Linked DNA regions of Homo sapiens. The protein of the gene in region 6 interacts with the protein of the main gene of each other region in a pairwise test. Each region holds a gene or a part of one and is shown on either strand. Other genes may lie near its edges. The genes, in order: HIVEP1, MUC20, MLH3, AGXT2, MAP2K4 and ALDOB.

What was found.
Region 1: the proteins of ALDOB (region 6) and HIVEP1 interact in a two-hybrid assay, tested with the Homo sapiens proteins (one large-scale study listed by BioGRID and IntAct).
Region 2: the proteins of ALDOB (region 6) and MUC20 interact in a two-hybrid assay, tested with the Homo sapiens proteins (one large-scale study listed by BioGRID and IntAct).
Region 3: the proteins of ALDOB (region 6) and MLH3 interact in a two-hybrid assay, tested with the Homo sapiens proteins (one large-scale study listed by BioGRID and IntAct).
Region 4: the proteins of ALDOB (region 6) and AGXT2 interact in a two-hybrid assay, tested with the Homo sapiens proteins (one large-scale study listed by BioGRID and IntAct).
Region 5: the proteins of ALDOB (region 6) and MAP2K4 interact in a two-hybrid assay, tested with the Homo sapiens proteins (one large-scale study listed by BioGRID and IntAct).

What each region holds. Positions count from the first base shown.
Region 1 is NC_000006.12:12,157,977-12,163,526, forward strand, and holds part of HIVEP1 (zinc finger protein 40), read left to right. Parts: intron 1-3,462; coding exon 3,463-3,953; intron 3,954-5,306; coding exon 5,307-5,550.
Region 2 is NC_000003.12:195,730,100-195,735,223, reverse strand, and holds the end of MUC20 (mucin-20 isoform a precursor), read right to left. Parts: intron 2,075-5,124; coding exon 2,006-2,074; 3' UTR 1,673-2,005; downstream 1-1,672. UniProt on the Homo sapiens protein: May regulate MET signaling cascade. Seems to decrease hepatocyte growth factor (HGF)-induced transient MAPK activation. Blocks GRB2 recruitment to MET thus suppressing the GRB2-RAS pathway. Inhibits HGF-induced proliferation of MMP1 and MMP9 expression.
Region 3 is NC_000014.9:75,030,184-75,035,733, reverse strand, and holds part of MLH3 (DNA mismatch repair protein Mlh3), read left to right. Parts: intron 1-2,243; coding exon 2,244-2,315; intron 2,316-3,554; coding exon 3,555-3,666; intron 3,667-5,018; coding exon of another isoform or gene 5,019-5,031; coding exon 5,032-5,191; exon of another isoform or gene 5,192-5,192; intron 5,193-5,550. UniProt on the Homo sapiens protein: Probably involved in the repair of mismatches in DNA.
Region 4 is NC_000005.10:35,043,100-35,049,242, forward strand, and holds the start of AGXT2 (alanine--glyoxylate aminotransferase 2, mitochondrial isoform a precursor), read right to left. Parts: upstream 4,851-6,143; 5' UTR 4,794-4,850; coding exon 4,706-4,793; intron 1-4,705. UniProt on the Homo sapiens protein: Multifunctional aminotransferase with a broad substrate specificity. Catalyzes the conversion of glyoxylate to glycine using alanine as the amino donor.
Region 5 is NC_000017.11:12,019,571-12,023,676, reverse strand, and holds the start of MAP2K4 (dual specificity mitogen-activated protein kinase kinase 4), read right to left. Parts: upstream 2,801-4,106; 5' UTR 2,791-2,800; coding exon 2,676-2,790; intron 2,355-2,675; exon of another isoform or gene 2,150-2,354; intron 1-2,149. UniProt on the Homo sapiens protein: Dual specificity protein kinase which acts as an essential component of the MAP kinase signal transduction pathway. Essential component of the stress-activated protein kinase/c-Jun N-terminal kinase (SAP/JNK) signaling pathway.
Region 6 is NC_000009.12:101,418,921-101,423,828, forward strand, and holds the end of ALDOB (fructose-bisphosphate aldolase B), read right to left. Parts: intron 2,985-4,908; coding exon 2,889-2,984; 3' UTR 1,640-2,888; downstream 1-1,639. UniProt on the Homo sapiens protein: Catalyzes the aldol cleavage of fructose 1,6-biphosphate to form two triosephosphates dihydroxyacetone phosphate and D-glyceraldehyde 3-phosphate in glycolysis as well as the reverse stereospecific aldol addition reaction in gluconeogenesis.

The DNA.
Region 1 (5,550 bases), on a different chromosome or scaffold from region 6:
GTTGTCAGCACTCAGCTGAAAGTCCCATCTGTTATTGTCTACCTTTCCCTTTAGAGCCTTCAAAATATGAACCATAGTTATTTTAAATTCTCAGTCATTTCTAACATAGGTGTCATATCTGACTGTGGTTCTGATTATTGCTTTGTCTCTCTGAAGTATGTTTTTTTCTTGCCTTCTTGTATGCCTTGTAATTTTGTGTTGAAAGCTGTACATCTTGTGTAAGACAGTAGAGACCCATGGAAATTGTTTGTATCCTAGAAATGTGCATGCCTCTCCTTCCTAGAGGCCTTTAGTGTGGGAGTTAGAGTTTATCTAGTTAGGAGTTTGCTAGGTTTGAGAGATTTGTTGGCAGCTATCCTCACTGCAGGAAAGGCTTCATGTTCCTGTAGAGATACCTTGTGTTTTGGCTGGGGGTTGGATCACAAGAACATCACCTGTTCAGTTCTAGTTTTAGGTCTTCCTTTTGCACTATGCCTCAGAAAGGGTCTCTCTGCACATTCTTGTTCTCCTGTTTCTCTCCAAGCACTGTTTTGTTACCTGTAATGCTAAGCTCCTTAGCTTGACATTGTGGGGCAAGGAGGAGGATGGGGTGCTGTCTCTGTTCCGATTGAGTTACAGTCTCGTACCTGCACCATTTTCTTAGGTTTCTGGGCTGTGACCTTCTCAGTTCTCCTCCCTCTCCCCCAAGTGTTGTGGGAGTTTCTGTGTAATCCTGTCCCTCCCCAAGGAGACAGGTTGTATGTGTATGTTTTTCCTGTTCCCTTTCCACACTGCAGTGAGTTTTCAGCAGTGTCCTAAGGACAACAGTGCGTGCCGCCCTTCTCCTCACAGGATAGGTCTTTTGTTTTCCTGGTGGAGACAGGGGAGATGGATCCAGGTGTAGTTCCTTGCCACTCCTCTAGAGTTACTGCTTCTCTCCCCCATATCTGGAACACAGCGGACACTTCTTACCCCACCCTCCTGTGAGCACCTGGGTGATGGTCATGGCATAGATCCTGTGTGAGAATGTAACCCTCAGAGGTTTCACACAATCTTGGCAGCCCACTCTTGACTCTAACCAGATACTTGAGCGGGACTCCCCTGACTGGGGTTCTGTTGTGTCTGCCCTCGGTGACACAAGCTTGTGTCTCCTTAGATTTTGGGCTGTTGATTATCTGGGACCTCGGCTTATTGATGGGTTTGGAAAAAGTTAATAAGTTTAAAGTTAGGCTGTACGTGTGTGTGTGTGTGTGCGCGCGCGCGTGCACGTGCACGCTTGTGTGTGTGTTTAACGTAAACAGGTCCCATCCTTGTTAGACTTTACAGCAAGAGCAGCCTTGAATGAAATCATCCTTTCTCTCCAGTAACTTATTCTCCCAGTCATTCAGTTCTCTTTAGTCTTTTTACAAATTTTACTTCTTTAAAGAAGATGCGTCTCCAAAAAAAAAAAATACCTAATTTGCTACTGATGTGGCAAATTCAAGTCAAATTGAGGATGACTCGAATTTTACAATGCCAAACAATCCTGATGGCCAACTGTCTTATTCTTCCCCAGGGCCTTCTCCTCAGCCAGGGCGGAGGCTCGTTGTGGGCAGGGTCCTTGTCTTTTATAATCCTCGCAGAGTTGCCAAACCTATAAAAAATTTTTAAAATAGGCAAGGTAGAGAAGTAGCTGAGGTGCAGGAGTCTGGGTATTTACCCAGAAATCACACATTCTGTCTCCAGCATAGGCCCCTAGAGCCAGTCAATACTTTGGTATTATTTTATTTCATTACTTATTTTACAGCATAATAGTAGAACCCTAAAAGCAAAAGCCTTATGAAATCACATGCTAACAGAACCTAAATGCATGTTTCATCTTAGAGTTTTTTAATTATAAAAGTAGCACACGTTTGTGATAAATAATGTAAAATGTCAAGTTCTTTTCATCCCCTAGAAATAATCACCCTCCAATCTTTTCTATGGGTCTTCTAAGGCTTTTCTCTAAACTCATTTTTGTCATATACAAAGAAAAAGTAAAAAATTAATATCTAGGCCATTTGGGAAAGGCAGCCTATTGCTTGTTGCTCTGTTTACATGTTTGTCTCTTTTCAAAAAAATACCTGTAAGTGCAGAATGTATCACAGCTAAACTGTACATTGTCTAATGTCATCTTTATTATATCTCAGTGACATTCCTCCCCCATAACTAAATTTTATTAAGCTTTCAGTGGGAAAGAGCCTCTAATTTGCAAGATTTTGAAAATGTGAAGAGTTTAAAAGTTCCACATGAGCTTATGAGATTTTTGAAACTATTTCCTGGATCATCTTGAAGATTCCTTGTTAAACTCAGTTTCACATGATGTTAAGAGGCTGATACTAACGACTTTTAGATAATATCCCCCTTTCTATGAGGAATGGGTTGAATCATATCACAGAAGAAATTGACAGGAAATTGTAGCATCTCTCTGAGTAAATAAGAAGGCTTACACATTAGGTGAATATGACGACACGGAGGACCATTGAAACATGCCTGTGTCAACCAAAAGAAGAAGCTAAAGCACAAAGTGTGGTTGAAAGAGTTGACTTGAGCCAGAATAAGGACAGCTGCCCAGATGACTCACCCAAACTGCTTGCTTGGCCTTTGTTACAGGCAGATTTTTAAAGGCAAAAAGAAAAAAACAAAAACAAAAAAACAGGAGGCAGGGGAGGGGGGCCGGTGTTACCGAGTAGACTGTTAGACAGTTCTGTCAGGAATTCTCATGGATATACAGAAGTAACAGTGATTAGTGACTGCCTGTCCACGGTTAAGCTATAGAATGTGGGATATAGTGTCCAGTGCCACATTACTAGGTTAATTCACAGCTACCTGTGGCAATGGGAAGCAGCTTCAGTAAAGTGTGGAGTAGGATGTGATTGCTGTCTCATCTTAATGCCTCTTTGGGGCCTAGTAATTTGAAAGGGCCCACATTCCTCAGATAAAAGTCCTTTTCTTTCCTCATCTATAATACTATTCAAATCTAAAGAAAATGTATGTTGCTCACAGATACCAACAGCCATCAGTTTTTTGTGTTTGATTTAATTTGTTCAGTAAAAGGAAGATACAAAATAGGGAAAAAGCTCAGGAAAAGAGTTGCGTTGAACTCTTTATTAATTTTATATGTAGTTCAGTTGTGTTTTAAAGATTTTCAAGTGCAATCTTAGAGGCCTTCATTTCCTTGTTTCTTGATTACCCTCCACCTGCCTCATTCCCCTTCTGAGAGTCATTTCCCATTCCTCGTCCCTGACCCCGGCCCCTCCCGCAGAGCTGCCCTCCTCTGAATCCTGATGGCCAACTGTCTTATTCTTCCCCAGGGCCTTCTCAGCCAGGGCGGAGGCTCGTTGTGGGCAGGGTCCTTGTCTTTTATAATCCTTGCAGAGTTGCCAAACGTATAAAAAATTTTTAAAATAGCACTTGTGCACTTGGAAAGCATTCCATCACATACCTCTTGGTTGTTTTTATTAGATGAAAAACAGAGATTCAGTTATGAGCGATCTGGATATGATCTTGAAGAATCTGATGGCCCAGATGAGGATGACAATGAAAATGAAGACGATGATGAGGACAGCCAGGCTGAATCAGTCCTGTCAGCCACACCCTCAGTCACAGCTAGCCCGCAGCACCTTCCATCTAGAAGTAGCCTTCAGGACCCTGTGAGTACTGACGAGGATGTCAGGATCACCGATTGCTTTTCTGGGGTACACACGGACCCAATGGACGTTCTGCCCAGGGCGCTGCTCACCAGAATGACTGTCCTGAGCACAGCACAGTCTGACTACAATAGGAAGACACTCTCTCCGGGGAAGGCCAGGCAGCGTGCTGCGAGAGATGAAAACGACACAATTCCGTCTGTAGACACTTCCAGGTCCCCGTGTCATCAGATGTCTGTGGACTACCCTGAGTCAGAAGAAATTCTGAGAAGTTCTATGGCAGGAAAAGCTGTTGCTATAACACAGGTAAATGATTGGCAGTTGTTCTTTTATTTCTTTTTTCGTTTTAACCTATTAAATATGGAGAACTTAATGGCTTAAGAAAATAATGCACTTAAGTGATTTTTTTAGGCCAAATCAGTTTGTATAGCTTTATTTTTTTCTTGTATTTAAGGGTAGAGGGTATTTTTGCCCTTTGGAGTCTTGTTGAGTATCTTAAGCAGTTCAGATATTTTATTGTAAATCTATGAAAGAACCAAATGGTTCTTGAAAAATACACCCATTTATTTTTATTTGCTTTTTGAAAAATTTTTGAAATTAAAAAAAAAAAAAAACGTGACAGTGGCGAACACAAGTCCCGCAACTGATTTATCTGCTGGCCCCTTCTGAGCAGTTTCTCCACTGGTGCTGATGTGATGATGGATTTTCACTGACTTACCCAAACATTTTGCACTTTGCCCCCATTGGCAAGACAGCTACCAGTTTCTATGGCAAAGTTAATGTGACCCGAAAACACATCAAGAAGTTCACTTTGCTTGAATTATCACATTGCTACAGCAGCTTGGGAGAGCTTTCTGCCCAAGAACTATCTCAAGGCAGGCACAGGCCTCTGAAAAGTCACGCTCCATGTGCTGTGAGTGAGTCCCTGCTCTACCTCTGGCTGTTTTGTGACAAATGATTAATTCTGGGAGGAATACATTCTTCCCTCATTGACAGTTCTCTTACCTCTAGTATGTATTGAATATTGCAATAGGATTTATGCCTAATTGTGGCAGATTGTGCTGTAAGCGTCTCTATCCCAAAACCTCTCAGACACTTACCAGTGCCTGGAAATCTGGTTTTCAGTAGACATTTCATAAACTTGCAAGTGATAGACAAACAACCAGAGAACTTTTTCATAGTAACATCTCTTCACAAATAATTCTTTAGTTCATTTTTCCCCATTGAGTTGACATAGCCAACTTGAATCTCAATTTCTCAGTAACTCTTAATCTCTAAAATAAGGTGGAGCTGGTAGTGCCAGAAACAGAAATAATAACAAAAATAGCAGCTTAAGAATATAGCTGTGTCCACTTCTCAGAGTTATTCTCTGTGTACAATATGACAAAATCCAGGAAATTTGCTTCAGACATGCAAAAGACTATACAAGATGTATTGCCATTATTTCTACCAGAAACGAAATTAAAGATGTAATAATTGTTTAATTGGAAGCTTATTTTTAAAAATCGAAAAATAATTTCATTGCAGCAAACATCATTTTTATCAATGCAAATATACTTACTTTTATCTCATTGTGAAGAAATAGATTTAGCACTAGCTTTATATCTCAGTGATTACAAAAGACCTGTCATAAAAGGATTGCTCTCTCTTGTCATTTAGAGCCCATCATCTGTAAGACTTCCTCCTGCTGCAGCTGAGCACAGCCCCCAGACAGCAGCGGGGATGCCTTCTGTGGCCTCACCACATCCTGACCCTCAAGAACAGAAGCAGCAAATAACTCTACAGCCGACTCCAGGCTTGCCTTCTCCCCACACTCATTTGTTTAGCCACCTTCCTTTGCATTCCCAGCAGCAATCGAGGACACCTTATAATATGGTTCCAGTTGGGGGGATCCATGTGGTAC
Region 2 (5,124 bases), on a different chromosome or scaffold from region 6:
ACAGTTTGATGGCCTTAGAGCCAGCAGAATTTCCTGGTGCAAAATGTGAGAGGGGAATAAAGACGGTGCCGAGGATTTCGGCCTGAGCACCTGAAGGATGCAACTGACGTTAACTGAGATGGGGAAGATGCAGGTGGGGCAGGTCCAGAGGAAAAGATCAGAACTTCGATTTTAGAAATGTGGAGGCCAGGAGCAGTGCTCATTAACTGGAATCCCAGCACTTTGGGAGGCCGAGGTGGGTGGATCACTTGAGGTCAGGAGTTTGAGACCAGGCTGGCTGACACGGTGAAACTCCGTCTCTACTAAAAATTCAAAAAATTAGCCGAGCATGGTGGTGGCACCTGTAGTCCCAGATACTCAGGAGGCTGAGGCAGGAGAATCACGTGAACCCAAGAGGTGGAGCTTGCAGTGAGCTGAGATCACGCCACTGCACTCCAGCCTGGGTGACAGAGCCAGGCTCCTTTCCATCTCAAAAAGAAAAAAAAAAAGAAAGAAATGTTGAATGTGAGGTATGTATTTCATCAACATCCAAGTGGAGAGATTAAGAATTGAAATGAATACACAGTATACATTAATAATAATAGCTGTATATAAGGCTGGGCACAGTGGCTCATGTCTGTAATCCCAGCACTTTGCGAGTCTGAGGCAGGAGGACTGCTTGAGCTCAGAAGATCGAGACCAACCTGCTCAACATGGTAAAGCCCCTTTTTTACAAAACAAAGTACAAAAATTAGCCAGCTGTGGTCCCAGCTCCTCAGGAGGCTGAGGTGGGAGGATCACTGGAGCTGGGAGGTGGAGGCTGCAGTGAGCCATGGTCGCACCACTGCACTGCAGTTTGGGTGAGAGTGAGACCCTGTCTCAATTTTAAAAAATAAATCGTTGTATCTAAGAGGTGGGATTATAGAAAAGTTTTTCTTTCTCCTCTTCCCACTTCTTACTTTGCTTGGTCTTTGGAATATTTCAAAATTTTGAAATCATAAACAAGTTTTACTTTTATTTTAAATTTATTTATTTATGAGACAGAGTCTTGCCCTTTTGCCCAGGCTGGGGTGCAGTGGTAGGATCTTGGGTCACTGCAACCTCTGCCTCCCGGGTTCAAGTGATTCTCCCGTCTCAGCCTCCTGGGTAGCTGGGATTACAGGCACCTGCCACCACACCCAGCTAATTTTCGTGTTTTTAGTAGAGACGGGGTTTCACCATGTTGGCCAGGCTAGTCTCAAACTCCTGACCTCGTGATCCACCGGCCTCGGCCTCCCAAAGTGCTGGGATTACAGGCGTGAGCCACTGAGCCTGGCCAAGTTTTACTTTTATAATAAAAAGTAAACCATATTAATTTTTTAAAAAAATAATAGCATGTAAGTTATAACATATAAGAGGAATAATTGAGGCTTGTGTCCAGAACTTGAAATTTAAATTTAGGTCAATTCCACATTCTCTGCGATCCCACTGCAGGCCAGACACTCTGCTAGTTCAGGGGATACTGAGATGAACAAAGGTGGTCCCTGCCCTGCTGCAGCGGGCTGTTCGACAGGCTCCAGGCCCGTCTCAGTAAATGCTATCATCAAAGTCCAAACCAAGACCTGGGGGAGTAGAAGGAGGAGGTAGCAGTGAGACTATACACAATCCCTGTACTATAAAAATGGCGAAAGCATGCAGATCAATAGACAGCCTCTGGGCCACACTGAGTGAATTTTAATGCAGGATGGAAGCACACAGATGGGTGATCAGGTCTCTCTTTACTGAAACACAGAACATGTGCCAAGGTGAGTCCAAGGACACCTCTGGGAACAGGTGAAGCCCCTCCCCACACATACACTCCGGTGGATGTGAGCGAGGGTCCTGTTGCCACATCTGGGGTCAGGGGCTTGGACATGCTGCCCTTCATGGGAACCTTCTGGGTACCTCTCAGCACAGTAACGCAGCTGCAGTCTGTCGGTGGGGGCCCAGGCTAGGGGCAGCACCCTCTTTTGGCATACGGGACATGCCTGGCTGCAGCTGATGTCCGTTAGCCTCTCCTGACACGCAGTAAGGAGACCTGGAAGTGAGGCGCGTGGGCGTGGAGTTCCCGGTGGAGCTGGAGAGCAAAAGAGCCAGCTGTCCTTTCAGCCCATCTGGCCCATGAGCTCGCCAGAGGCAGAGGACAGGAAGGGACACTGGGGCAGAGTGCATGCGGAGGACGGCAACCCTTCCTGGGCCTCCTACATGCTGGACACAGGCTGGTGCCTCACACACATTATGTCATCTAAACCTCACAGCAACCTTATAAAGCAGGTGTTAGGATCCTCATTTTATAAGGGATGAAAGTCGCATAGAATAACTTATCCAAGATCACACAGTTGGGAACTAGAATTCACACCCAGATCTAGCTGGTTCCTAAGCTCATTGTCTAATCCCCGAGCCCAAACTGTTGGGCTGTCCCCGGACGAGAACTGATGCCCAACCCCATGTGGCCTGGTGCCTGCGCCTCAGCTGCTTGACCTGCTCCTGATCTCGCGGTTTCTTTCCGATTCCTGAAATCATTTCTGGTTTGGGGGCTTAGACCTGAGATTCAAAACTGGCTTCCCGGCCGGGTGCGGTGGCTCACGCCAATAATCCCAGTGCTTTGGGAAGCAGAGGCAGGTGGGTCACCTGAGGTCAGGAGTTCGAGACCAGCCTGACCAACATGGAGAAACCCCATCTCTACTAAAAATACAAAAATTAGCCAGGAGTGGTAGTGTGCACCTGTAATCCCAGCTACTAGGGAGGTTGAGGCAGGAGAATTGCTTGAATCCGGGAGGTGGAGGTTGCAGTGAGCCGAGATCGTGCCATTGCACTCCAGCCTGGACGACAGAGCGAGAATCTGTCTCAAGAAAAATAAAAGAAAAGAAAAGAAAAAGAGAAAGAAAAAGAAAAAGAAAAAGAAAACTGGCTTCCCAGCCGGACGCAATGACTCAACGCCTGTAATCCCAGCACTTTGGGAGGCTGAGGTGGGTGGATCATGAGGTCAAGAGTTCAAGACTAGCCTGGCCAAGATGCTGAAACCTGAAACTCCATCTCTACTAAAAATACAAAAATTAGCCAGGTATGGTGGTGCGGGCCTGTAATCCCAGCTACTCAGAAGGTTGAGGCAGGAGAATGGCTTGAACCTGGGAGGCGGAGGTTGTGGTGAGCCAAGATCGCACCACTGCACTCCAGCTTGGATGACAGAGTGAGACTCAGTCTCAGAAAACAAAACAAAACAAAACAAAACAAAACAAAACAAAACAAAAGCAATTGGCTTCCCTCTCCCACAAGGATTCACACTCGCTACTTTGATTATCACATGCCGGGGGCATTTGTCACTTATTTGGCCATCGGGTGTCGAGCCCCCGTGCCATGTTTAGGGAACTCCTCACAGTGGGAGTCACGATTGGCCTCACTGCTGCTAAGAGAACTCCAAGGACACAGACATCCCTTCTTCCCGTCCCCTGGCACCTGGCTGTGGGCTCATGGGAGTACAAGGGCTAAGCTCAGCCTATCAAATGTTCCTACTCAGGACTTTGGCTCTGGAGCAAAAAGTCCAGTGAGACAAAAAGGCAGCGAGAACCTATGTGAATGTGTGTGCAGGCCACGTGATGCCCCTTGGCTGTGGCAGCATCCAATAGTGACTGACCAGCAAGAGGGACAGTGTCCCAGCCAGCCTGATCCCACTGTCTGGACCTCAGAGCTCCTGGGGGCCCTCCTGCCTATTTTCCAAGCCTGCTGTCCTGGCATTGCTTTGATTCTATGCACTCTGGGACGCTGCCAACAAATCCCCCTTTTACTTACGACAGACAGAGGTTTTCTTTCGCCTGCAACAAAGGATCCCACTCTCCACGGACATATCTTGCTTCCCTCTGCTAAGGGCAATCATTCCACCTGTCCAGCCTGGCTATGAACTCTACACCTGGCATAAGACCCCCAGCCAGCATCTCTGCCAGGTTTACCCTTGCAAGGGATGACAGGAAGCCTGAGCCACTTTTCAGCAGTGTGGCACCCATTGACTGTGAGAGGTGCTGAATGCAAGCTTCAGGTATTAGCAAGGGCACTGTCCCATTGACTGTGAGAGGTGCTGAATGCAAGCTTCAGGTATTAGCAAGGGCACTGTCAAAGAGGCAATCCACATTAGACTGTGCACTGGGCCTGTTTTCACGGTTACATCTGTGAGCAGAGCTTAGACACTTCCCATCATGCCCCATCTGCTACTTTGTACCACACATTAGGAGAACAACCCACCCCTCAGTGAGGCCAGGCCCGTGACATCTGCACTGAGCTGACCCAGTCTAACCTCCAACAAGCCACACCATCCCCATCCTCAAAACCCTGACCCCGGAACTTTACCATTGGAAGTTCTATCCAGTGGGTTTTAGGAGAATTTTCCCAACTTGTACAAATACATCCCAATCATGGTCCTCATCTAGAGTATACATCTCTGCGGTTTTTTCTGCCTAGCCTCCCTATTTTCTTGGGGCTCATCCTTCCTCTATGGGATCCTGACTGGGTTGTCAGTCATGGTGACCCTTGCAGGCCATGGAGACCTGCACTTCCCCAGATGACATGAAAATTTGGGGAGAGGGGGCCGGGTGCGGTGGCTCATGTCTGTAATCCCAGCACTTTGGGAGGCCAAGACGGGTGGATCACGAGGTCAGGAGATTGAGACTATTCTGGCTAACACGGTGAAACCCCGTCTCTACTAAAAAAAAAAACATAAAAATTAGTTGGGCGTGGTGGCGGGCGCCTGTAGTCCCAGCTACTTGGGAGGCTGAGGCAGGAGAATGGCGTGAACCCAGGAGGCGGAGCTTGCAGTGAGCTGAGATCGCACCACTGCACTCCAGCCTGGGCGACAGAGCGAGACTTCGTCTCAAAAAACAAAAAGAAAGAAAGAAAAAGAAAAAAGAAAAGAAAATGTGGGGAGATGGAAGTCCCTTGTGAATCTATGGCTAACAAGGCTGCCTTTTCATACACATGAAGAAAGACTCTGAAGAATGAAGGGAGTAAAGCTAAGACAGGGAAAGAAAGAGAAAGTCCCTGTGATGGCGCTGGAGCTGCTGGATCCAGCCGTACTGAAGCTGAAGAGACACTTGTAGGTTTCTCAGACCTTGCCTTTTTTTTTTTTTTTTTTTTTTT
Region 3 (5,550 bases), on a different chromosome or scaffold from region 6:
CCTGCAGGCAAGTGCTAAAGTTTTAGAGCATTTATTCTCTATGTATTTCAAAATATTCCCTTTACCTTGTTTAGTAAATGTCATAGCAGATCAAAGGCAAATTAACCTAAAGTTCTGTCAGAATTATCATGAATATAGAATTTGTGAAGATCAAATTCCTATAGTTTTACTATTTCTAGAAAAGTAATAGTTTTTTGTTGTTGTTGTTTTTGAGACGAAGTTTCACTCTTGTTGCCCAGGCTGGAGTGCAATGGTGCAATCTCAGCTCACTGCAACCTCCGCCTCCTGGGTTCAAGCGGTTCACCAGCCTCAGCCTTCCAAGTAGCTGGAATTACAGGCACCCGCCACCCACGCCCAGCTAATTTTGTATTTTTAGTAGAGACGGGGTTTCTCCATGTTGGCCAGGCTGGTCTCGAACTCCTGATCTCAGGTGATCCGCCCGCCTTGGCCTCCCAAAGTGCTGGGATTACAGGCATGAGCCAACCCGCCTGGCCAATTTTTTTTTTAAGTTTTCATTATCTGGAATTCTTTGTTGTTTTTGAGATCAGAATCTCTACTAATGATACTCAAGATGGGTGTAACTACAAAATCTGCAGATGTTGAAAGAAGCAAAATGGATCTGTTGAAATTTCTCTTTTTTTCTTTACTTTTTTTTTTTTTTTTTTTTTTTTGAGATGGAGTCTTGCTCTGTCGCCCAGGTGGGATTGCAGTGGTGCAATCTCGGCTCACTGCAGTCTCCCCTTCCCGAGTTCAAGGAATTCTTCTGCCTCAGCCTCCCAAGTAGCTGGGACTACAGGCACCTGCCACCACGCCCGGCTAATTCTTGTATTTTTAGTAGAGACAGGGTTTCACCATGTTGGTCAGCTGATCTTGAATTCCTGACCTCAAGTGATCTGCCCTCCTCAGCCTCCCAAAGTGTTGGGATTACAGGCATGAGCCACAGGCCCAGCCAGAATCTGTGTTTTAATAAGATCCCCAGGGGGTATGTGATATGAACGTTTGAGAAGCCCAAGTCTAAGGCAGGATAAACATGGCCCGAGGGGAATCTGGGCATCACCTCTTTCTGTACAGCCAGGGAGATGGGAATGGTTTTTACATTTTTTAATGGTTGGGAAAAAAAAAGAAGACTATTTCTTGACACATTAAAATTATATGAAATTAGTATTTCAGTGTCCATAAATAAAGTTTTATTGGAACACAGCTACGATATTCACATATTGTCTATGGCTGCTTTGGCTCAAAAAGAATTGTTGAGTAGGCATGACAGAAATCGTGTGGCCCAAAAAGCCTAAAATATTTATGATCTGGCCCTTCAGAAAACGTTCTCCGGCTTGTGATCTAAAGTGCACTGGAAGTACATTCTTTGTGGGTTTCCAAGTAGCTTGTACACCAAGGTTAGCTGATTATAACAATGTGTTGTTTAACGATCCTTTATCATATTAAAGTTGAATTAATAAGGCAAAATCAGTATTTAAACATAAGAATTATATATTCAAGCTTCAAACTTGAGGAAATGCCACTTTGACTTTTTTTTTTTTTTTTAAGATGGAGTCTCACTCTGTCACCAGGCTGGAGTGCAGTGGTGCAATCTCGGCTCACTGCAACCTACACCTCCTGGGTTCAAGCGATTCTCCTGCCTCAGCCTCCCAAGTAGCTGGAACTACAGGCGCGTGCCACCACACCCAGCTAATTTTTGTATTTTTAGTAGAGACAGGGTTTCACCATGTTGGCCAGGATGATCTCGATTTCTTGACCTCATGATCCGCCCGCCTCAGCCTCCCAGTGTGCTGGGATTACAGGTGTGAGACACTGCACCCAGCCCTGACTATGTTTTCTAAATGAGATGCTGGTGAACTAAAGAGTTTCTTAGTTTACCTTTTGTTTCCTAAAAAATGAAATTATGGGGAAAATAATAAAACTTATAGGATAAAAATTAGTAATACTGGTAATCTCTGGAGAGAGAAACTAGAAGGGGTGGGGGCAAGAGTATAAAGGAGACTTTATTAAATTCCCTTTTGTGCCTTTCAGAATTGGATCTGGGATTCAAACATATGGGATAAGTTTGCTATCATTTTCCCCATAATTTCATGTTTTAGGAAATAAAAGATACAATTGTTACTCCTCAGAATGTTTTGTCTTATGCTGTTGTTAGATAGTTTGAATTAAGTCTTCTCTGTCCTCAACACACATGATGGTTGTCGTCTTGCTCTGAGAATCAAAGTTCACAATCCTTGCTCATCTAGGTGGGAACCTGCTCGTGCTGGTGGATCAGCACGCTGCCCATGAGCGTATACGTCTGGAGCAGCTTATCATTGGTAAGGATCTGTTTGCAGCCAGAAAAAATTTGAGACTCCCAGCAGAATCAGTACACCTCAAAGAGCTTTTCTAACTGCAACTGTTGTGAGAAAGCACACTTTGTACTGTATGTTCAAAAATTAAACTAAAGTCCTGCAGTTTGGCCTGTGTTATAATTGAAAGAATGTGGTAGTTCACTAATTGAAAGATGTGAACTTATTTATGTGGTCAGAGGCATATTTGCCAGATGTTATTAACAACCCAGAAGTACGCAAGGATAGGCTGCTTACTCTGACATCCAGCACAAAGCTCTGCCCCTCCATATGCCCGGTGATCTTGGCATGCCTTCCCACACTCCATCAGGCAGAGACCAGTGGCAGCTCAGAAGGCCCAGTATGCTGTTTTGATTTTAAAATTTAGTTTGCTTTTGAATATGCAGTATAATCAAATAGATCCAATTCTGAAAGGCACAAAAGGGAATATAATAAAGTCTCCTTTCTATCCTTGTCCCCACCCCTCCTAGTTTCTCTCCCCAGAGACAACCAATATCTCTGGTTTTTAAATCTATCTTTCCAAAGCAATATATGCTTTTTAAATGTTTTTTTTTGCTACCCTTTTCCTCATCATGAGGCAGTGTGTTCACCAAGTGGTAAAATACCAGGAAAGTCTTTACTCCTGTGGCCAATGAGTAATGTCAAAGAGTTAGGCAAGGACCTAAGGAGTGCTTCATGGACTAGAATGGCAATGATATTACTACTGTTTTCACTTTTCCTTATAAAATGACGGCCTAAGAGTTGGGAAAGATATAGTAAAAACAGTGTTAGAAAAACTTACCTCTACAGGCCCTGCACCATTTGAGAATAGTACTAATTCTCTCCAGAGACTGGGAGACCCTGCTCAAGGAAAGGGAAGCCTTCTGGAGCCATAAGACTGTGTGGTCAACCCACATATGTTCCTGGTAATCCACATTATTCACCTCTGTCATCAAAACAACATTTATTAACTACAGGAACATTGGCTTGTTCATCTGAATGTAAGATGCAAGTCTTATATTTCTTATTTTGAAAAATACTACCAAAATTGTTAATAGGCTGAATATTTATTAGTTTGACTTTAAAAATGGAAATCCAAAATCTAAAACTGAACATTAAACATTCTGCTTTGCATTAGAATGATTATCTCAAGGCCGTGCTTTATTTTTATCTGAATCTAGAAGACTTCCCTTCCTACTCTTAACCCATTCATCTTTCTGCCAATAGATTCCTACGAGAAGCAACAGGCACAAGGCTCTGGTCGGAAAAAATTACTGTCTTCTACTCTAATTCCTCCGCTAGAGATAACAGTGACAGAGGAACAAAGGAGACTCTTATGGTCAGTACCACCATGAGAATGTGATGTTGATGGTATCAATTCTCACAATAATTCTGTGAGGAATAAGCATAACTATTGTTCCATTTCTCAGATGAGACCAAGAGAGGTTACAAGACTTGTCTAAGGTCATAGCAGTTATTAAGTAGTGGAGCAGGCACTCAAAGGCAGGTCGTCTGACTCCACAGGCTGTTTGTTTCCTTTTTTAAAATATATTTTTTTCTGCATCCAATCATCCATTAAAATATTTATTTTGTGAGACATGGTCTCACTCTGTTGTCCAGGCTGGAGTGCAGTGGCACAATCTCTGCTCACTGCAACCTCCACCTTCCAGGCTCAAGCAGTCCTCCCACTTCAGCCTCCCAAGTACCTGGAACTACAGGTGAGCACCACCATGCTGGACTAATTTTTGTAATTTTTTGGTAGAGATGGGTTTTCGCCATGTTACCCAGGCTGGTCTGAACTCCTAGGCTCAAGCGATCCTCCCACTTTGGCCTCCCAAAGTGCTGGGATTACAGGCGTGAGCCACTGGACCCAGCCTATTCTTTCCACTGTATCCCAGCTGAAGAGTATAGGATAGAGTTTCCCTGATAATTTTTTCCAGCAGTTGGCTTAGAACACTCTTCTCATTTCTTGGAACAGTCTGTGTTTATGCCATGCTTTGTGAAAGCAAAGTTTCTGCAGTAATTGGTCCCATTCTGCTTTGCTTTGGTGCATTCTAGACTCTTAGTTTTCATTATCGTAATCATAATGGGAAGAAAGTAAAACATTGGGATGTAAGGAAGGGGCGAATCATATAGTGAGTCACAAGATAGGATATTTTTCCTCTTCTAGGCAGCACAAATTATTGAAAATGAAAAAGAAATTTCTCCCAATATGTTTCAGGTTTGGGAATATGATACTGCCAGTAAATCTTTTTTTCCCTATGACATAATTTATATTAGAGGCAGATCTATTTACTTACATCCCGTTAGTCAGGACTTCTCAATTCCTTGGGCTGTTAATTACCTCCCTGCTTTAATGCTGATTCAAATCACTCTCAGACCTTTTCTTCATGCCAGACTCCCTTAAGTGCCAGCAGCCAGAAGTTAGCAGTTCCTCAATGAAGAAAACACACTTAGAAACAAGACTTAGACACAGATTGATTCCCAATGGAAAAGAGAAAAACAATAAAGGTTACTGTAATTCAAAAAGGAAATTTGATAATAAAAAATCCCAAACACCCACACATAAGTGTGAGAAAAACAATACGGTTGTTAAGCCCTGTGGCAGCTTTTGAAAAACTATTAAGTAGTATTTGGAACCAGTAGTGAAGTGCAAATGAAGTAGCACTCTTTTTTTTTTTAACATTTGAGGTTATCTCTTTAGGTGTTACCACAAAAATCTGGAAGATCTGGGCCTTGAATTTGTATTTCCAGACACTAGTGATTCTCTGGTCCTTGTGGGAAAAGTACCACTATGTTTTGTGGAAAGAGAAGCCAATGAACTTCGGAGAGGAAGATCTACTGTGACCAAGAGTATTGTGGAGGTAAGACACAGCTGCAGATGTTAAGGAAATTGCTGAGTGATGGTAACCTCATATTTTGTCTGTAGATTCTCTGAATTCATCTTTTCTTCAACAAGTATTCATGGTATTTACCTGCGGTGTGCCAGGAGCTAGAAATTCAGAGATGAGTTAGCTCAAAATAAGGAAGAAGGGCATTTAAAGAATTATAGTCAGTGAACTTTGGCTAGTAGAGGTATGTGTTTTGCTTTCTTCCCAGTGATAAAGGTAATGAAAACTAAGAGTCTAGAATGCACCAAGATAGTTTTTCAGAAGTGTTATGGAAACACAGAATGACTTGTGTGCCTGGGGAGGTGAAGTCAATGAAAATGTCACAGAAAAGC
Region 4 (6,143 bases), on a different chromosome or scaffold from region 6:
GTTCACTGCAACTTTATTTTCTTTCCCCAAAATCATAATATCGAATGACAAAAACTGTTGGGCAAAGTAAATGAGAAAAATCAAATTTTTTTGGCATTTGGAAACTCTAGGGAAAATTCTCTTTGTAATGATAACGAGTTTTTCAGTATTCACAACCAGTTTTCAGCCCAGAGGGAGTATTTATTAAGGGCTTCCTCACCCTTTAAAATGAAAAAAAGATTCTAAAATATTTGAAAATATGCAGTGGACACAGTGTGATTTATTAAAATGCTAATTATTATTATTACTGAGACAGGTCTGGCTCTGTTGCCCAATGCTCATATAATGTGTGAAAATAATGACATGCTATCTCAGCTGCAATAATTTTAAAAATCAAAGAAAAGCTTTCAAAATAAATTATGGCTTTAATTTACAGATGCCCAGGGATGATTTCTTTCTTTTTTTCTTTTTTGAGACAGGATCTCCTTCTGTCACCCAGGCTGGAGTACAGTGGTGTGAGCATGGCTTACTGTAGCCTCGGCCTCCCAGGCTCAAACAATTCTCCCACCTCAGCCTCTTGAGTAGCTGGAACCATAGGCACCAGCCACCATGCCCAGCTATTTTTCTTTTCCTACTTTTAATAGACATGGGGTCTTACATGGAGTGCAGTGGTGGAATCTCTGCTCATTGCAACCTCTACCTCTCAGGCTCAAGCGATCCTTCTATCTCAGCCTCCTTAGTAGCTGGGACCATAGGGGCATGCCACCACACCCGGCTAGTGTTTTGTATTTTTAGTAGAGATCGGGTTTCTCCAGATTGCCCAGGCTGATCTCAAACTTGTGAGATCAAGCCATCTGTCTGCCTTGGCCTCTGGAAGTGTTGTGATTACAGGCGTGAACCACTAAGCCTGGCCCAAAATGCCAATTGTATCTCATTTCTGTATAGCATCTTAGGTAACTTGAAAAAAACCTTGTCACATTTGCAATCTCATTTGATACTTGGGATTGCCAACGAGTTAGGAAAGGAAGATTTCATCCTCCATCCACCTTAGAGGACATCAGTGACAGATGGAATTCGAGGCCTTGGCAGTTTTGAAGTCCCTCACTGATATTGACGTTTGAGACACTGCCTCCCATGGAGGCCTGCTGAAGCTGTGTTGGGGTTTGGACGCCTGAGGGACAGTGTCTGGTCGGTAGAGAAATTTTTCTCCTCTGCTTCTCTGTGCTGGAGCTGCCAGCTTGGAGACTCCAGAGTGGTCGTTTTCTCTTCACACATGGGGCCGCAGTCTGCAGCACGCTGCTGAGGACCCTCACCATTGCTGTTCGGTATCATCCGCTCCGGACATGATCTCTCACAGCCTTCTCTGTGGAGGTCCCCTCTGTCCCATGCGTGCTCTGGGTGCAAGGATGATGGCAGTGAATGCCAGGTGCCTGCATCCGCTAAGCAAAGCTGCTAAGAGGCGGTTCCTACCAGAAGTTACTCTACTCCTGCCTGGCCTTCCTTGGCTTCTTTGCGTGTGGGGTCCTGTCCACGTCCTCAGCCTCCTGTTGATTATTTCAGCTGCCCTCCCTCCTTCCCTCCATTCCTTCATAACCTTCCAGTATATGCCCTTTTGCTGAAGCCACACAGGGGCAGTTGTGGCTGTCCACAAGCAAGAGCACTCCTCGATTCCTGATTCTGAGGTGGGTGGGTCTTCTTCCGCACGTTCGGGAGTAGGCATTCTCTGTGATCACCCTTCCTGGCCCTTGGCATGTGTTAAATCAGTTCTGACTGTGGCAAGGCTGCCTGGAGGGGTGTAGATGGGAGGCCCCCCTTTAGGGCAAATTTTAAATGTTTTCTTAAAATAGGCTTGGCAGGAATGGAGAAACATCTCAGCTGGAAATAGATGACTTTTTGTGCCCTCCTTCCTTTGTGGGAGAGCAGGCATATATTAGGAAATTGGTACATGGGAGCACATACCCCAGCCACCTGCAAATGTTATATATTTCAGTCATTAGCTAATTGTAGGAAAGAATGCCCCACTGAGATATTTCTCCACACTTTTGTACTGAAAACAAATTGCTTCCATAACTTTGTATACACAGTTAGCCCAAAGTGATTGTGCATATCAAAGTGTAAACAAAGCTGAACATTTTATGCATATGAATATTGTACAGTAACTATGTAGATACTATACAAGAATTGTGACTTATTTATTTTTGCATATAAAACAACACTTAAAACGTGGTGACCTCCCTATCACAGCCCCTCCCCTCACCCCCATTATATTTTTCTATTCCCTTTCCAGATTTGGTTTTATTCATGGCATGTGTCTCTATTGGATACATACATAAATACATACATATTCACACACATATATATTTTTACATATTTACTTATTCATTTATGTCTATCTCCTTCCTGGAATAGAGGGCAGGAGCTTTTTCTTGCTTATTGTGGCTAAGTCTGCAGCACTGGTGCATAATAGATGCTCAAATATTTTGCCTGAATGTATATATTGCACATGGCAGGTGCTCAATAAATGTATGTTAGTGAGTGTGTGTTTGGATGAGCAAGCACAAACAGGCACAGACCTAGGTAGAGTAGGTAAGAAAGTAGACATAAAAGTCCCAAAGGTTTTTGCAAGGCCAGGTGATGAGGATAGCATTCAGTCTAGGTAGTGTGGTTTTTTTCTTTTTCTTTTTTCTTTTTTTTTTTTTTTTTTTTTGAGAAGGAGTCTCACTCTGTCGCCCAGGCTGGAGTGCAGTGGCGCAATCTCCGCTCACTGCAAGCTCCGACTCCCGGGTTCAAGCCATTCTCCTGCCTCAGCCTCCTGAGTAGCTGGAACTACAGGCGTTCGCCACCATGCCCGACTAATTTTTTGTACTTTTAGTACAGACAGGGTTTCCCCGTGTTAGCCAGGATGGTCTCGATCTCCTGACCTCGTGATCCGCCCGCCTCAGCCTCACAAAGTGCTGGGATTAGAGGTGTGAGCCACCGCACCCGGCCAGTGGTGTGGTTTTCCAAGACTGCTTCCCTGTAGTGTCCTTGCTGGGCCTATGGTAAGGCGTCGCCAACGAGTTGCTCAAGATCTCTAGGTACTAGGCCTCACCTGCCCTCTCTAGGTTACCTGCTGCTCCACTGTGCAACTCCACAATGTTCAGAGGTTGGGGTAGGGAAGGGGAGGGGGCAGTCTAGGGCATTTCTCTTGCTAGGTCAACAGCTGGTACTTTCAGCATAATTTCCTCCTCACTGAGCATAAGACTGGTTATAATTTTACCTGCTTCTGAGAAAATGTTGGAGTTAGGTGATGTTCTGGCAAAAGAAACTCATGACCAAGGGAAAAGAGCAGTCCAAACAGGATTGGAAGACTAGGGGAGGATAGACAGGGCCTGGTAGAATCTCTTCGAGTTCGGAGTCAGATAGACCTGGCTTTGAATCCCAAGTTATCACATACATGTTTCTGCCTTTGACCACATTTCTTAGATATTCCTTATTCTCTTGTCTCCTCATTTGTGGAATGAGATAATAGTACTCACTAACAAGTTTGGTTGAAGATAAAAGGAGATAATGCATTTAAAGCATCATGCATGTGTCAAGTTTCAAAAAACTGCAATTTTCAGGGGTAAGAAAGCGAAGAGGAGAGGAAGGAAGGAGGGTGAAAGGGAAATATGAGGAGAAAATGAAGGCAAAGTTGGTCACAATGGGGAATGTAAAATGGTCCCCTGTACCTGTTTACGGCCCGTGAAGCACAGGCACATAAATGTACAGACAGTTGCTTAATCTCATGTTTGCATGAGGGAATTTGCTGAGGAGGAGGTGAGGCTCTCGTGAAACAAGATCCATGTGAAAATCACAAGCATATAGGATATTACTCATAAAGCCACCAATGTCTGGTTACCCCACATCTCCTCATATTTTCTGTTCTTGCTGCAGAGAGGAGAGTCTGAGTAGATGGGGAGGGCCTGGGGTCAAGCCCTGGCTTGGATGACTCTGGGTGAATCACAGCACTTGTTGGCAATTGAGAGCGTGGTCTCACTTCCTAGAGGCATGATGAAAATTCATGCAGATGCTTTACATCTTTTAAAATAGTCATCCTAGCCTGGTGCAATGGCTTAGGCCTGCAATCCGAGCACTTTGAAAGACTGAAGTGAGAGGATTGCTTGAGCCCGGGAGTTCGAGACCAACTTGAGCAACATAGTAAAACCCCATGTCTACAAAAGTTAAAAAAGAAAAATAGCTAGGCATGGTGGCATGTGCCTATAGTTCCAGCTACTCAGGAGGCTGAGGTGGGAGAATTATTTGAGCCTTGGAGGTCAAGGCTGCAGTGAACCATGATCACACCACTGTACTCCAACCTAGGTGACAGAGGGAGACCCTGTCTCAAAAAAGAAAAAATAGAAATCATCCTTGGGCATCTGTAAATTGAAGTCACACTCTATTTTGATTGCTTTCCTTTGGTTTTTAAAAATATTGAAGCTGAGATAGCATGTCATGTTGAAATTGTGTATAGTCGGGTTTCATTATCCACGAATTTCATTTCAAAACAAAAAGGAGCATTACAAAATATTGGCTATGAAAATGGGGCATTGACTCAGGGTGAGAACCTGTGTGTCAAAAACATGCCTCATCTCTAAGACCTCACCCAGGTCTAACATTCCAGAATCCCAGGCAGCAGCCTTCGGAGCTCAAGTCTTACCCTCTCGCTGATCCTCTACTGACCCACGTCCCCCTGGTTTCCACTTACGGCTCAGGAAAGGATGCATCTCAAGGATCCTGGGAGCGGAAGTGACCAGGCACAAGGGTCTCAGCAAATGTCTCCAGATTAGAGTCATTTCTCCCACTCAGAAAGCCAACCCCCATGGAAGCAGATTGGAGGCCGGGCTCTAACTGCTCACTATCCTGCTGGACTTTGAGATTAAGATGGGGAGGAGGCGCTAAAAGGGGAATCCTGGAGTGGTGACTGCCCATGGCTTCAGGCAAGCCCCAGAGCTCTCTATTTCTAGTAACAGTGCCTTCAAGGGGGAGAAAAAGAGAGTGAGGAAAAGAGATAGAATGAAAATAGGAAGGAGAGAGAGAAGAGGAGAGAAAAGAAAGGAAAAGAAGAGAACAGAAGGGAAGAGGAAAGAAAGCAGGCAGATAAAGCAAAGGTCATCTGACAAGTTCTGTTAGTTTAATATTCCATCGGAGTTTCATCCGGGTACACTTTTCTCTGCAGGAGGGTGGTGCTGGGTGTGGGAGAAGGATCAGGACATGGTTGAAGGGGTCGGAGATTGTGAAACGAGGTATGTGACTAAGAGAGGAAAAAGGAAGATATGCATGAAGTGAATGAACAAATAAATTGGTTTTGGGGGTCTTAGAGAAAGAGAGGAGAAAACAATGGGGAAGGAGCCATTCCAAAGAAAAGCTGAGAGTACCAAATAGCTAGGTAAGGTTCTGGACAGCTGTGGATCATCTTATGTGTCTGAGGAAGGCAAAAGGTTGAGAGCTAAGGAGTTAGTGTGCCTTATTTTCATTATTTCTTAAATTCCTATTTATCCCACTCCAGCCTCCCCTTACCTTCAATCCCCATAAGCAAGTATTTAGCATGCTTATATATATCCTTTTGTTGGAACGCATTCTTGTAAAATGTGTATTGTTTAGGGTGAATGCAGTTTTAATTTATGTAAATATGTGTAATATGTCTTTTTTCTTTTCAGTTAGAACCATGTTTTTAAGATCCAACCAGGTTGCGAAGAGTACATCTCTTCTAGGTTTCCCACTGCTTCAGAATGGGGGACCACGTGCTTTACATGGCAGTGCCTAAGGGGGACAGTGACAAAGCTGATTGCAACTAGGGGGTCGAGGGACTGGGGATGGGTAGATATCATTAATCTTGGGTCACCCTGTAAGGGAGACAACTGACTTGGCCACATCCTTCACAAACACCTGCATAACAACCTTTTACTCCAAATGCCCATAGGAGGTGAAGGCACTAGGTAAGCAGAGGGAGTATGTTACATTCAATATAATTGTCCCTTTTTGTGTGGGTTTCCAGCTCCCAGTCAATTCTGCTTTGGGGGCAGTAGGGAGTGATCATATGAGCTGGCTGGTCACGTGCTGCAGGAGTAATCCAAGTCAGTGAGGCCAGTGGACACACAGCATCTCCCTGGGGTGCACAGTCTGTCCTGTGGTTGGACAGAGGG
Region 5 (4,106 bases), on a different chromosome or scaffold from region 6:
AAACATGAAGCCATGAAAAAGTATTCAAGGTTATCCAGTGCCCACCACAGTGCTTACCACATAAGAGGATGTCCAATGTCTACTGCATGAAACATTCCTTATGTTCCACAACTGAATCCTGCTGTTTCAGAGAGCATGGTCATTAACAACTCCCAGAAAGGAAGTTTTTTGAGTGGCAAGTATAATTAGATTGGGGGAGAAGGAATGGAAGTACATCAAACATCTTCTAAGGCCCACTCTGTGAAGTCTGATCTAAAGCAAAAGAAGACCCTTGGCAGATGAAGTACAGTATGGGAGGTGTGACTCCCATACAATTGGATGGGAATCTTTCTTTTTGGGTTCTTATAAGATTTCCTCTTCAAGGGCCTCACAATTAAGATACAGAACAAAACAAACCAAAAAGAAGGATCCTAAATTGCTGCTTAAGTTCAAGCTTTATAACAGACTGTTCTAGACAACATCCTGAGAATATCAAGCACTTCATTCTGACTAATGAAAAAAGTTTCAAGAACAAGATATAACACATTCCTGAATCAATCAAGACTAGACACAATATTGATAAAAAAGAAAATTCGGCAATAATTCATAGAGAGGTCTTAGGTCCTTTTTCCTTCTAAAATGGGTTCTGCTTATTAGAAAGTTTAGTTAACTGGGTATCAACATACAAGGGCTGAGGAGAACGGACAGCATCAGAAAAAGTCCTAACCACTGCCTTAGGAGTTCCTAGAACACTCCAAGCTCTTCCCTGCTTTGGAACCTTCATACACACAGTTCCTCTGCCTAGAACCGTCTTCAGGTAAAAGAGGGTTAGCTTTCCAGACAAGCCTTCTCTGACCATCTTATCAAGCGGACTGCCCTCTATTATCTTCTATCACAAAACCCAGCTTGTTACCTTTATTACTTTTCCAACTAGTAATTTTTCATGTTTAGCTAAATAGCCTTCCCTCCCCCATCTTCACAGGGGGATAACCTCCATGAGGACAGTTAGAGATGTTCAATTCTCTATAAACTCAGCATGAGCGTTTTATGCAGATGCTCAATAAATATTTTTTGAACCAAAAAAACACACTGTATCCAGCTATTTCAAACTGTCAGCCTCCCCACCAATAAAACAAACAAACAAATCACCTTGTTTTTATAAGCTTTGTAAGTCACCCATCTGGAACAAGAAATACAATCCTAAATTGTCATTTTGCCATTTCATTTCGCCCCAACCACCACCACCTAAATTGTAAAGCTGTACAGTCAGGAAGTCAATCTTATACTTCATCAGTATAATGTGCTGTGCAACACAGTGGGCATCCAATAACTAATTCAATTTGAATGAATTATCTGAGGGCCTGCACAGAAAGTGTCCTCTAAGCTCTGACATCATCCTGTCTATATATCTATCACTGGTTTTTATGTATATTAAAATTATTTCATGGGGAGGGTGACAGGGATGTAAAGATAAATAAAATCCTGTCTCTTCTTTCTGAATTATGGCATGCTCTATAAACATGAACTATTCAATAAATGTCTGTTGAACCTAACTAAATGCTAGAAGCCCTTTAAGAGGAATGGAATCAAAAAGTAACCATGGTCACACTGACTACCAAGGGTACCCCAACCCTTATTCTGTTAATAATTCAACACAAGCAGTTTGCTAAAGTTGTCAAGAGAGTTCTGAGATTCCCTGTTTTAAAAATAGCATTACTACTCAAAATTCCCCAGTAAATTTAAGGAAATGGTCCCTAACAGGCTCGGGCCTGGCCTGGTATTTTCACAACACCCCCTGTCAAAAGCCATACACAGCTAATAAGCATTCCCAGTGGGGAAAGTCATTAATTAGCAGAGCTGCCTCAAATGTCCAGACACTACAGTATCACTTTGACCCCTGTCTATTTCCTGTATCTCTCCATTTAAACCAAATTAAGTCTTCTTTTTTTTTTTTTTTTTTTTTCTTCCTGCACGCAATGCTAACACAGAAATCCCTGGCCTGGAACAAAATGCCTCTCCCAGGCCAATGCAGCCTACCTACCTTACAGGTGGCACAGGCCTGGGCAACCCGCCCCCCACCCCCATCCCTTCCAGCGCACAGAAACCCTGCAAAAGTTTGAAAACGCAGGTTCCAAGAGGCCCCCGTAGCCCGAGGTCAGCTCGGTGGTCCGGCTCCAGCTGTGCCCGGCGACAGCCAAGATGGCCCTGAGCGGGGCCCACTGCGGCGGCGGGGCCGAGGGGCGCCGGCCGGGGCCGCTGTCTTCGCCGCCTACCTGAGCGGCGTCAGGGACCAGGGGGCAGGCCCGACGCCCCTCCCGCTCCGCCGCAGCCCCGAGCCGGCGCGTTCCCGGAAACGGGGGCCGGGCGGGCGCCAGGTAAGCGGCGGGGGCGATGGGGACGGCCGCGGGGGCGGTCCCGGACCAGGTGGGCCCTGCGGGCCTGCTGAGAGCCCGGTAGGGCCCAGGGGCCAAGCGCAGGCAGAGGCCGCGGCCGGGGCCTATGCGGGCCGGAGCCCGGATCCAAGCCGGGCCGGAGGCGGCCGGGAGCGGGGCGGGAAGCCGGGGAGGGAGAGAGGGAGAAGCCGGCGGCTGCCGTGGCTTCCTCAGCCGGGTCCGGGGGCGTCCGCTGGGGCAGGCCGCGACGACGCGGGTTGCCGCGCTAGGGGGCTGGGATCTCGGCGCGGCCGCGTTCCTTACCCTGCATGCTGCTGACGGCCGGGTGGCCTGGCGCCGGGGACCCTACGGGGCCGGGGGTGCCGCTGCCGCTGCCGCCCCCGGAGCCGCCGCCGCCGCTCGGGCTCGGAGCCGCCATTGTTGGGAGTGAAGAGCCGAGCGGCGCCGCGGCGGCTGCAATGCAGCAAGCTCGGCCTCTCGCACGGCCGAGGGGCGAGGCTTACCCCCGCCTTGGCCCCGCCTCCGACACGCCCCGGACACGCCTCCTGACACGCCCCCGCCAGAGCCCGACGCGCAGCCCGGGCCAGATGCTGAGCTGCAGAACCGCCCGGCTCTGGGTGCGCGACCTGTGAAGCAGACAGCTGTCTTGGACCAGGGCTGCGGGCCCGCGGGGCCTAAAGTGGTTTGCAGAATTAAAGGTGGGCCTGCATTTGTGCGGAAAGAAGGTACGCAGCTTTCATCATTCCCATGGAGGTCTGTGACTCCCAAAAGTCCACTTTGTTGGAATCTCAGAACCCCAAATCAGAATAGTAAAGCTGAAAAGGATCCCAGGGATCCCTTTCTCCTCCAGTCGCTAACACATCACTTCCAGAAGGGAGTTACCTAGAGCTATGGTTACAGTCTGGAACTCCTCTTAAGCCCAATACCCCAACCCTCTACACTTCTCTGAGGGGAAAGGGGAGTCCCAAGGGGAACTAACCAAAGTGCTGTCCATGGACCCATCCCAAAACTACTGAATTAGAGGTTACATTTTAATAATACCACCAGGTAATTTGTATGCCCATTAAATTTGAGAAGCATATATTTAAGCACTCGACACTTCCCAGCCTCCTGAAATATGCTATCTACATCACCATCTTCCCCTAAATGCACACTGGATTCCCTCTCCCAAATCCTTTACATCTTGTATAAGACGAGCCGTAGTCATTATTGTAAGTTACATAAAATGACAACCCCAAAAAACAATATGAGGTTTCTTCCATTGCTTTGCACAGAGACTTTTATTTTAGGAAGACAGTAGCTAAAAGAAGAAAAAGTTCTCTATGAGGCTACGATTTGTAAGCCAACCATAATGTACTCGAAATGGTAAGACATGGGTTTCTGGCCAGGCAGCCTTGCCTAAAATGGAATAGCCAGTTATCCTACTTCCCAAAGAATCTAAGCCATGGAGCTGGACATTTTCTCCCATTTAGAAGCATTGTGTGATCTACAGCTAGACTTCTTTCCCAAAACTTCTTCCACCCAGATGTTATTTGATGCTGAGAGTTCTTCACAGCATGTTGGAAATGTGTCCTGGGTCAAAATAGCCCTGCCTTCTTGTTCCAAACCCAATTTCATCCATCATCTTGATGGCTCAGATCCTAAAAGTGGCTAGCCGTAAACATCAAGTGGAGAGGCATTAAAGGCAAATTGAAGGTGAGAGCAGGTAGGTGTACTTCAGTGGAGAGCCCGCCA
Region 6 (4,908 bases):
CATCTCAGTATATTGTTTTTATAAAGCATGCTGTAGACTCAAATGAGAAACTCAGTTCTTCCTCACAAGAAGACAGTATCTTTAGATTGCTTAATAATAGTTCTCCTCCTTCTCAAAAGCCCGTCACCTCCCCACAATTACATATTGCCCTAGCTTCTTTCCTGCCTCCTCCTTTTCCTTCCTTTCTCATTTCTTCCTCTCTTCCCTCATTTTCTTGCCCATTCCCTTCCTTCTTCCCTCTTCCCTCTTCAGAGTAAAAACAAATTCCTCTTTTTATTCTTTCCACAACTTAGTCATTTGTGTGTGTGTGCGTGTGTGGCCTTGGCTCTTGATAGCTTCAAAATGTCTTCTTCTCCCAGTGACTTATGAACGTATTTTCTTACACACAGGCAGTATCCTCTCTATGAATTCCTTTCCTTTTTGTTCTCCTGTAATGTCCAACCTAAATGCCATCTCTCCCTTTCCTACACCCAGACATCTGATTCTACACCCTGACTCTCCATCCCACTTACCAACCCCCAGTCAATGGTTTGTGTGTTTCTTGCTTAGCTATTTAAGCTTAATTGTCTGGTGTGCCCTAAAGCTGAAATTTCTCTATTTTTCATGTCTAGTACCAGGTTTTAGTTTTAGTAGGTGTTTAATAACTACTAAAGTAAATCTGAAAAAGTAACCAAAGCTGGGAAGTCACTAAATACTCACTCAGTAATCACAGCGAAATTGAACTCTGTAGCCTTGTAAAACACTTGTCTGCATATTACCGTGAAAGGAGGAAATTACTGGGATTAATATTTCAAAGACAACAGTAGTCCCTTAGTAGGGAAAATATATCAGATGATAGCCAGGAAAATGCATTATATAAATCCTCATTCCCAGTAAAATGTAATTCAGCCTTGACCAAAATATATAAGTAACTCATCCTTGATTATAAATTCATGGTTAACTGATAAGAATCTGAGAGGTTTCTTTAGATACCTCTTAAAATATCTAAAGAATTCAGCGATGCTGAGTAGGATCTAGATAAAAACTATCTGGCAGAAAAGCTTTGTCTCACAAGGTGTTACCTACCTGCTTTTAGGACAGCTTGGCACATAGTAGGAGATGAAGTGCTTGATGATTGACTGAAATGTACAAGGAGAAATGTACAAGACTACACCACGGGTGGCAGAGATATTGAACACAGCCTGTCACCTTGCCCTGTAAGATCTCTGGCTGTGTATCCACTTTTTGAGCAAGAGACTTGAGTTCAGAAGACCTGAATTTTAATCTCTCAGCTCTGCTATAAATGTGGGATCCTCAGTAAGTAATTTTACTTCTCTGGACTTGGTTTTATCACCTGTAAAATGAAAACCGTGGGCTTAATAGATCTCTCATATAGGCTTGAGTTGCTTGTATGACTGTCTGTAGTTGTTTTTAGAAAAGTAATGACAAGTACATGGAAATAAATATTCAAATACTGTAGAGGGCAGGTAATAAGGAAATGTCATCTTTCCTGTGCCCTGACTCCCAGGTCTTTCTCCCAGGTCTTAGAGTAAGCCCCTTTGGCTAATTCTGTCTTATTCCTCTAAATAATATGTTAAGTCTCTGTTTCTTCATTTGTTAATCTACACAATACCATTTGTCTTTGTATTATTCAAGGTAAGAAATTTAGCATACTACCATCAATATTTTAATTTTAGATATATATTTTTATGATTTACATCCATTTCTTTTATTACTTAAATAGAATTAAAGCACTATTTCTTAACCCATCAGTTTTAAGTAGTATTCCTGACTCTCTTTGCTTTCTTCCACTTCTCCTCCCCCTTATATTTCCTAGCTTCTGTCAGTTAAATCATCACTTTTATATTGTCCAAAGTTATAATATTTAAATTCTCTTTTATAACTCTGGTTGTCTTAAGTGCTGTAACTATAGGTTAATTCTGAAAATTGAAAGTCAATACAGTATCATTATGTGAATATTATTTACTGCAAAACTACGAAATATGCCTGGACGTGCAGATGACAAGGTAGTCCTGTTTCACCAAACCTGGGCCACTTGAACAAGAATGCTCCAAGCATTGAAGTCACATTAATTCTCTTATTATACTCCACAAGTTGCTCAAAATCATTCTACATTTTTAGCTGGCTTCGTATTGTGAATGGCTTTAATTTTCAAATACCCTCAAACTTGAAATTTAGATTGGTAGTTCTCAAACTTGACTGTACATTGGAATTACTGAGGGAGCTTTAAGAAATCTAATAGTTAGAGGATCCCAAGTCTAGGGTTTCTGATTTAATTGAGCTGGGGTGTGGCCTGAGCATCTCAGTTTTTAAAATTTTGCGGCTTGATTCCAATGACTAGCAAGAGTTGAAGACCTTTACTGTTGAAACCCAGTCATGTCTAGTAGAGTCAAAAGTAATGAAATACACTGAGTCTTTGGACAGCAAGAGCAGAAAAGTGAAACCCGATAGCAGCTGAAGGTTTATAGAATATTTATTTCTTTTTTGGTTGCAGCTATCTCCTTCCCAACCTACCACTGCTAAGACTGTTTCATAAGATGCACTTCTCTACACTCAGCTAATGAGGTGTTTCAATCAGCAGTTGTTCTTTGGATGAGGAGCCGATATTGTTTTAAAGCCTATTATTTTCTTGGGTGGGTATTCTGGAGCATGGGGAGCTGAAAGTGTTGCAAGGAAACTGCTGTGTGAAATTTGATCAGGTCCTTGGTATTCATTTTTATGTTTCAATAACTGATTTATTTTTTCCCCCTTGTACTTAAGATTTAACATGTGTTGTATTTCCAGCAGTTCAAATCTAATTGTGTCGAATTTCCAGGATTGGAGGAAAAGTTGCTCCCTTTCAGCCCTCCTACTAGAAGCACTGGAGCTAGGCTGGCGGGCATTGGACCCTAGTAGGTATAGCAGGCTGTGAAGAGCGACTGGGTGGAAGCAGCCCCAGAAGAACCCGTGTGAACATACTGTCCTTTGGCCGCCTGGCAGTTAGCCTAGAAGACAAATATGAGAGAGGAGACTGGTTAGAGTAAATGTGACCCCACCTTGACCCTGTCTGCCTCTCATGGGAAACCAGTCAAACCTTCACTCAGATTTTCTTCTTTTTACAGCAATGTTGCTGAATATTGCTGGGGATACCATCCCCTTCTATAAAGTATCTCCCCTTTTTATCCCAGTTTTCTGAGCATTTCTTTGGTAAGCTTGAGGTTTGTGTCAGTTACTGGGGAAATCTCTGTTCAGTACCAACAATATTGCAGCAACAGTACTAGAAACTAAAGTTGAAAAATTTCTCACTAGTATAGTACACTATACCAAAAGAAAAACATGTTTATTTTAAAAACATTTCCATTTTCTACCTATATTGGTCTAGAAGAATATGTAATTTTTATTTAGTTATTGTAGTATCATTTGCTTTCCTGTATACATTCCAGTTAAAGATAAATTCAGAATTATGAAACTTACGACAATATTTGAATGTCACTCAGTGGTACCACTTCTTCCAGTCAGTGTTGCTATTGTCTGTTCTCTCCAGGACTTATTTCTACATTTTACATCAATGGTTCTCCAACTGTGTTTCATGGTCTACCAGCATCCCTTAGGAACATGTTAAAAATAGAAATTCCCTGGCCTTACCCCTGACCTACTGAATTAGAAACTCAGTGGGTGAGACCCATAATCTGCATTTTTAACAAGCGCTTCAAGTGGGGGTAGGGGAAATGAAAAGAGGTTGGTAATGGGTACAAAAATACAGTTAGGCAGAAGGAATAAGTTCTAGTGTTTGATACAACAGTAAGATGACTATAGTTAACAATGATTTATTACATATTTTAAAATAGCTGGAAGAGAAGATTTGGAATGTTCCAAACCCAAAGAAATAATAAATATTTGGAGTGAATACCCTAATTATCCTGATTTGATCATTATACATTATATGCATATATAAAAAATCACAGATACCCCACAGATCTATACAATTATTGTGTGTAAATATAAAAGATCATGACAACAAAACCAAAATCACCTTCAGGTGATTCAGATCCACACTGGAGCTTGGGAAGCACCATCCTTGATGATAAACTCAGCTTCCCTTCTTCTGTGTGGATGTCCCTGATGACCTGCGCTTTCACAATCCCTCCATCATGTAAGCTAGGTCTCCTCAGTCCATCAGCCACACAGCAGCACTGCTGCACCCTGCTTTCCACAGTCAAGGTAAAGCACTACTTTGAAAATCTGATACCTCTCTTATGCCTGTGAGATGATGATTTAGCTTCCCTGGGGCCTTCCTTCCCTTTAGGGCCTCATCACCACACTTCTGACTACTCTTGATTCCTTGCCTAGCTTCCTCTATGGTCAGCAAGCTAACAGAGGCTATCGGTAAAATTTGTCACTCTTCTACCTTCCTATTAAACTTTCACTCTTCTACCCCGCTATTTTGCGTTCTGAATCTTCCTGCATGCTTTAGACTGCTGTTAGGAAAACTCAGGAATGAAGCTACCACACACTCACTCTTATTTCAGCTGCACATTACCTGATGCTTGGCTATGTCTGGCCATAACGTCCGATCAATTTCCTAGCAAGTTCCTTTAACTGCTTTTCTACGCTTTCCGACTGTCAGTATTGAAATTTCCATTTCTTCATCATTCTCAGCAGATACCCTCAACTGTAATCAGTCATCAACTGCTACATCTCTTGACTTATATAGAGCTGATTCCAACTGTATTCTCTTTTCTGCCTCTTCCCTCCTTTTTGTCTTACACCAGCTGTGCCACCTATGCTTAATATTGAGTCTCATGCAGTCCTGCTCCTCTAAGTTCTTCTCCACTCAATTATCCCCACTCTCCTCATCTTTACTGTCTCCTCTGGCTCCTCTTTCTTTACATTTAAACATGCCAAGCTCTCTCCTATTTGGCTAAACTC